Homo sapiens: one gene and its partner. The protein of the gene in region 1 interacts with the protein of each later gene in a biochemical or structural test. Each region holds a gene or a part of one and is shown on either strand. Other genes may lie near its edges.

What was found.
Region 2: the proteins of BASP1 (region 1) and GAD1 form a complex in vitro, tested with the Homo sapiens proteins (one study listed by BioGRID).

Annotation. Positions count from the first base shown.
Region 1 is NC_000005.10:17,269,490-17,273,238, reverse strand, and holds part of BASP1 (brain acid soluble protein 1), read right to left. Parts: intron 1-3,749.
Region 2 is NC_000002.12:170,815,316-170,819,064, reverse strand, and holds the start of GAD1 (glutamate decarboxylase 1), read right to left. Parts: upstream 2,179-3,749; 5' UTR 2,017-2,178; exon of another isoform or gene 1,860-2,016; intron 1,812-1,859; exon of another isoform or gene 1,649-1,811; intron 1,348-1,648; exon of another isoform or gene 1,025-1,347; intron 680-1,024; exon of another isoform or gene 537-679; 5' UTR 474-536; coding exon 392-473; intron 1-391.

The DNA of each region.
Region 1 (3,749 bases):
ATATAAAGAAATAAACCGGATCAATATTTTAAATTATAGTTTATAACTCTTCCATTGAATTCTTAACTAGTCAGTATGCACGAATGGCCTATACCAAATATAATTTCAGCTCTGATATTTCAAAATACATTGGGTCCCTTAGGTTGAGCTAAATAAGAAACAGGAAACCTAACAGGTCTGCCTTTAGGATCTTCTCTCAATCCAGTAATAGAAACCCATACACCAACTTAGAAATTACAGACACTAAGATAAAGTGCAAACATAGGGGGTCCAGTAAGTATAACATGGGGTGCTGCTTTCTGACACCCACAGCATGAAATTCTATACAGCAATCCCCAGAGGTTTAAAGTCATGTTGGGTTACAAACCTAAAATCTGAGTTACTAAAACTGGCTTTTCTGACACATAGTTAAGGCCACATTCTATTCTTTGTTTTATGCCCAGCTGCGATTTGTTTCTGGGTCGAAAATGAACACACGTAATCAAGTTATAAGTAAGAAAATATGTCTCAATCCAGTTTGTTTTTCAAACAAAGTTAACAAACGCCCCTGGCATTTTGCTAATTTACCTCTACTGGTTATATTGAGGTATCAGAGGGACGCTCATAGGACCCACCTGAACCCTCGAAAAGCAGGATTGTCTCATTATTTCCCAAGACCATATGCGTGAAGACCTTGCCTACAACATCTATTAACTGTTTCCTAGGTATCAAGCACAATCCTACTCATAAATATATTACATAAAATATGTAATCTCAACAGCACCATGGGGTAGTATGCCATTCACATTCTCCTTTTACCCATAAGGAAATCCTACTAGCTGAGTTCGTGGAGCTGTACTATGAGCAAAGGCCAAGTCCAGCAAAATTCAGTAAGGCAGGAAGGCACCACAGAGGGGATAGAAGGAACTCCACTGAGAAGCCGGCAATGGGGCAAAGCTCTCAGCCCAGGAATGTTATGCGCCTGGGTTACAAGGATGGTGCCACCTGGGGTAGTTCAGAACTCAGGTGTTGAGGGAATAAGGAAGAAATTCAGTATTTTGAGTATCCTCTGCCTCTCAACATTTCATCTTCCTATTTGCCAGAGAAGCTTTTTACCAAGAGAAAGCAATGAGCATACAGTTTAATGATTTCATTCTTTTTCTTTTCTTTCTTTTTTTTTTTTTTTTTCTTGAAATGCAGTCTCAGTCTGTCACCTAGGCTGGAGTGCAGCAGCAGCACAATCTCGGCTCACTGCAACCTCCGCCTCCCAGGTTCAAGCAATTCTCCTGCCCAGCCTCCCGAGTAGCTGAGATTACAGGAGCCTGCCACCATGCCCAGCTAATTTTAGTATTTTTAGCACAGATGAGGTTTCACCATGTTGGCCAGGCTGGTCTTGAACTCCTGACCTCAGGTGATCTGCCCACTTCGGCCTCCCGAAATGCTGGGATTACAGGCGTGAGCCACCATGCCCAGCCGATTTCATTCATTTCTGTTACTTCTAATTTTGAAAGACATCATTTGGTATAGAAAGTTAGAAGTTGGAACTTCTAAGATTAAAATAAAGCAGTTAAAAAAATACAGCAATAGACAATCCATGCTGAAAAGTCACTTCAACTAAAAAAGTCACTAAACCAAAGCTCTACTGAAAAGGCCGAGACTGACTTTGCATTTCTCCACAACTAGGAAATTCACTAGAATTTTGTAGCACAGCAACAAAATTCAGACCAATGCTGAAGGCACTGACCTCAGTTCTATGTGTTTATGTATTAACCAAACACTAAAACTGACCTCTGTTATGACATCTCAGAAAAAAGCTAATTCTGGAGCTGTCCTTTAAAGACCGGGTGTGGTGGCTCACACCTGTAATCCCAGCACTTTGGGAGGCCGAGGTGGGTGGATCACTTGAGGTCAGGAGTTCAAGATCAACCTGGCCAACATGGCAAAACCCCGTCTCTACAAAAATTACAAAAATTAGCCAGGCGTGGTGGTGCACACCTATCATCCCAGCTACTGGGGAGGCTTGAGCCTGGGAGGCAGAGGTTGCAGTGAGCCGAGATCAGCCACTGCACTATGGCCTGGGCAGAGTGAGACCCTGCCTCAAAACAAAACAAAGCAAAACAAAAAACAAAAAGCAAACAAAAAAGCTGTCCTTCAAAGAAAACTCGATGCCACAAGGGCGAAAATGACAGGCTTACCGATTAATATTGGCATAGAAAATAACCATAAACAGTAGTAGAGAGAGGAATTTCACTGAGTTTAATCTGGTAAATATTGGACAAGAATTGAATTTCAAGGAGACTTTGCACATTGGGTCATGGCAGAGTATAAAAATCCCACCTCCACAGCACACCCACCCAGAATCCTTGGGCAAGTTATTTAATCTCATCGTCCTTCCGTTTCCTTTAAAATAAAAAAATTTTTTTAAATGTCAATTTAATGGGAATTTAATGTGAGGCCATGTGAGTACAACATTTTACATTTCCAGGGACTGCAAAAATGTTAGTTCCTTCCCCCATCATTTAGTTTGAAAATTCTTAGATAATTCTTTGCTGGTAAATTCCAACAGAATAGTTAGCACACAGGTTCCACACACACAAGTTCTAGAATCAGGAATCTGAAGCACCACAATGAAAAGAACATTTAACATCTTTTAAAAATGTTTAATGTTATCAGAAAGATGTTTGGTATATGTGTTCCATGCATGCTCCTGCTGGTTCTATTTGAAAAAGAAGTTTTTACAGTTATCTGTTGTCACCATATTGTAAAGGTAAAATCTCTACTTCTTCGCTCTGAATATTTTACTACTTAAGATTCTAAGAGGTTTTCAGTCTTTTTAAATATATTAACAGTCCATTCTGCCAAGAAATCAGTTTCTACACAGAGATAAAAACCAAAGATTAGTTAAATCCATTCCTCCCAATTAGAACGAGTATTGGAGTGATCAGAGAAAGAGAAGAGGGGGCTGTGTGTGGTGGCTCACACCTGTAATCCTAGCACTTTGGGAGGCCGAGGCGGGCAGATCATCTGAGGTCAAGAGTTGAAGACCAGCCTGACCAACATGGAGAAACCCCGTCTCTACTAAAAATACAAAATTAGCCAGATGTGGTGGTGCATGCCTGTAATCCCAGCTACTCAGGAGGCTGAGGCAGGAGAATCGCTTGAACCTGGGAAGTGGAGGTTGCGGTGAGCCGAGATCGCACAATTGCACTCCACCCTGGGCAACAAGAGCAAAACTCTTGTCTCAAAAAATAAAAATAAAGAGAAGAAATGTAATTGCATTTTTTGCTGTCCCCTCACCACCTCTTCATCACTTGGTCCAAGGAAACAAGAGAAAAGTGTTTTGATCACCAAGATGGAAAAGGAATCCCAATTCTTTTACTCATTTAATGCCTCAAATTTCACGTGTAAAGGGTAAAAACCTGGTCTACAGCTTATCTTGGCTAATAAGCTAAACACACCATGTTAATGAGAGAAGCTAACATTGTCAAATGTCATTTTGTTTTGCTACTTCCTGCAGAAGAATACTGTTTGTTTATCATATGTCAAATAGCTTAATAGAGATACTAACTTACATCTTTAAAATCCCCCACAACTATCTTGTGACTAGTTTTATTCCCTTCCACCTTATAAAACCAAGCCTCCATCCAATTAATCCCACCTGGCTAGAAACAGCTATTCTGGAAGAAATGTGATAAAGTTCTGCTTTTCGGTGAAGAGAGAAGAGAGTGTGCCATTCGAGCACTGTGAGTTGATCAGAGCAACCTGGGCTG
Region 2 (3,749 bases), on another chromosome or scaffold:
GCCGGGGACTGAAAACTCTTATTCCTGCTGGGGCTCCTAGCTCTTCATTCCGCCCCCTGCGCTGACCCCTGTCGTCCCACGGAGCAAAGAAACCACACACAACAGAATAAAAACAACACCCTGGCTGCGCGCCCCTCCTCCTCCGCGAAGCCCTCAACGATCGCCGCTGCTCGGACCTTGCGTGGTCCTCGCTTTCCGGTGCCCTGGGAGTCACCTAGCGTCCCTGACAGCCGAATGACCTCTGGCAGGGACGGGGTCAGAGCCCCATTTATTTCCCAGCCTCCATTATCTCCGCGCTCCCCCTTCCCTTTCCGCCAGCTCAGCCTCCCGACGTCCCAGCGCCCCCATCTTCCCTGCAGTTCATTTGATAGAAAATTGGGGCGGGACCTACTTGTGGGGCGCAGGTTAGTGGTATTGGGGTCCGCTCCCGCGTTCGAGGAGGTTGCGGACGAAGATGGGGTCGAAGACGCCATCAGCTCGGTCGTCCCGGGGCCTCTACTGTCCAGAGTCCTCGACTGGTCCGGCGCAGAAACAGGCTGCAAAGAGAAGCGAGAGCTGTGCGGGGAGGACTTCCGGGGTCCTGCACACCGGAGGGACTGAGCAGCCGGGGGCACGGAGGCTCCCCTTGAAGATCCGGCTCTGGAGAGACAAGAGGGAGGAAAGGCAGCGAGCCTGCCTGGTAGGGGTGCGCAGGGGTGGGGGCAGCGGAGGAGACGTGCGCGCTAGCTCCGGTACTGGGGCGCAGGGAGCGTAGCCCTGGGCCGCTCTCGAGTCTGGCGGTGCATCGGCGCGACCTGGAGTGAAGCGCCGAGACGAGGCGGGGTCGGGGTCGGGGTGGGGGTCCAAGGCCAGTACAAGACGCAAGGGTGTGGGGGACTAGGCTAGGAGCACAGGGGAGCGCTCAGTGAGCGATTTTCCAGCCGAGCCGCTACAAGCCCCATTGGGCACTCAGCAGCCGGCGTGTGGGCCAGCGGGGGGAGGGCGCACGGGGCGGGCATGTCTGGTTCGGTGTCTGGTTCCCGTTGTTGTGTCTGGCTAATTCCCTGGAAAGAAAGAGGCTAACTGCTCCGGGGACTAGGGACTTTGGTGAGACAAGGTGAGAGGGGGAAAAAGGCCCATATCTTTACGTTCTCCCTCGGACTTGGCCAGAGAAGAACCACAGTCACCTTGCACTCCAGACAGCCAGAAAGCAGCGAGTCGGAATGTTGCTTGCCTCCCTCTTATCCCAGCCGGTTTTTAGCCATCGCTAAGCCTAGGGCGAGGTTTCGGTCCGGTTTCAGCGTTTCTCCTCTACCTAGCCCCCTGAGGACCCCAGATTTCTCGCGGTACAGATCCAGAGAGGGTGGGGTAAGTAAGCATGGGGAACGTCACCGGGGAAACGAACTTGCGCGCAGCGCGCAGGAGGCGGCGGACAAAGATCTTGCGCGGCGCCCCTGCTCGACTCTCGGCGCTGGCGCGATGGCGCCCGAAGGCCCCGGGACAGAGAGATTGCGGGCTAATCTGGGTAGATCGAGGACCCCACAGAGAAGGGCCCACCGGCCATCGCCTCCACACCCTCCCTCCGACCTCACTCCTAGCCCCGCGCGCGCAGTCGCACAGCAACTCGGGCAGCGGGTCGACTACGGCCCCTGGAAAAGTAACAGGTTACCGTTCCTAGTAGCGCCTTCGGCTGCTGCTGCCCAGGCGCCCTTTGGAGGGACAGGCGCTCGCAGCATGGAAGCTCAAGGGAAAATCGCTCTTGCCCCACTTCAACTAGAGCCTCAGCCTCCGTGCTTCCCCGGGGCGTGAATCCGGAGGGCAGGGATAAGAAGAGTGACGAGGGAGGCGGGGGGGGGGGGGTCCCTGCGCAGCGCACCCGTGGAGAGCAGGGACTAGGGCGGGCAGGAAGCACTCATTTCGGGAGGTTGGGTGGCCGGCGCTGGGATGGGGTTGGTTGAGAAGCCGCGGGAGGAGAGGACCTGGCTGAAAAGCCACGGTTGGGCGCTGGGAAGTCCAGGTGGTCGCTAGCTTACCCACCTCGGCTCTGCGACAGCGAGCCGGGCACTCCCGCCTTTCCTCTGCACAGCGCCCAGCGATCCGCTCGGCTCGGCCCTGACAGGCGTAATCTGCCCGGCGTCACCTCCAGCTGCTTCCTCGTTCTCGCTAGTTCCCTCTCGCACGCGAGCGCCAGGAGAAGAGAGAGATTCGGAGAGGCGGCTGCACGGCTCCGGGGTAGGCGGGGGCAGAGTGGGGAGGCGGGGACCGGATCGGCGGGGAAATCACGAGGCCGTTGCTCGCGGGGGCAGCTAGTCGGCGGAGCGGCGGGGCTCCTCTGCAGGTGCCTGACCGCCTCTGGAGCTTTATAGGGCGATTATAAATCCAGCTCACGGTTTTGCGCCCGGAAGGAAAAAAAAAAGGTCTTATGAGTAATCCAGAACGTACTCAACACGCTTTTTTTTTTTCCTTTGGAAATAGGCAGGCTGTCGGGTGAGAGGAGGGAAAAGATAATTCCTACGAAGAATTCTGCCTTTCTGAGCGTTTCTTCTTCCCTCCCCTCCTTTCCCCTCTCCCATTTCCCCTCCCCCTCCCATATATTGTAGGAGACGAGCGGCGGTTTTGCCTCAGTGCTTTTCCCCGGGGTTCCCCCAGATCTGTGACCCTGCGACGCTTCCTTGAGCGAAAGCGCGCTTTGGGTCGTGTCCTCGTTGGCTCTCTACGGAGCTGGGATTGTTGTAACCGCAAAGGAGGCAGAAATGAGGGGAGACCTCTTAGACCATGGAGGAATTACAGTTTCCTCATCCAGCCCTGGGCCCCATCAAAGTACCACACCTGGCCACAGCTACCCAGTGCCACCGGCAGAGAAAAGGACCCCGCGTCCCTTTTGCTATGCGCTCGCTCCTCGCTTTGGCCCCCTTGGTGATGGGAAAAGAAGGCCTCCTGATTAATCACGTTTGAAGGTTGATGACACGCACGAGCGCCGCTGCACGCGCATGGGGCACCCGAGCACAGAGGTGCCCGGAAGGGGCGGACCAGCCCCCCTTGCCCTGGCCCGCTCCCCCTTCGATTTCACGCGCTTTAAGGATTCTCCCTTTGCAATATTTAGGCGTAGTTAAAAGAACCGCTGCGTTGGGAGAAGCCCCTCGCCGTAAAAATGCGTTGAAAGAGAAATTCCCACCAGAGGGCGCCAAGAGCCCAGAGACGGAGAGGCCCTGCGCTCCCGGGTCTCTCCGCCAGCGCCCGAGCGGAGCCCACACCTGGAGCTGCTGGCCAGACGGTTACGCGCCGGCTTGCCTCTTCATGCCTTCCCTCACCGCCCTGTCACTAGTTTAAGTTCTCCCCTTTCTTCTCCCCCAGTTTTTTTCTTTAGGGCAAAAATGTTGATGTCTGTGCGTGTCTGGGTGACACCGTGTAGGCAGTGATTCCTTTACTGGTATTTACCGTGGTCCTCCCCCTCTCCCCAGGTGGTGCAGCACGCAGGGGTTATTTATGCGCACGTCTGGGGCCTCACTGGTTCAGCGGAGGCCCGTCCGTTTTCTTTGAATGCCTTATCGCCTTTCACCACAACACAATGGAAACACACACAAAAATATTATAAATTACCGAGAGTTCCATAAGGGAGATCGAAGGGTCCGCCCTGGGCAGACATGGCCTGATCAGCAAGAGGGATCTCGCTGTGGGGTTTGAAATAATCGCGTTGCCTTTGGTACTAAAGAAACTACTGTTTTGTCGCCTTGTCTCCACCTGACGATGAAATCCCCGGCACTTTTTAA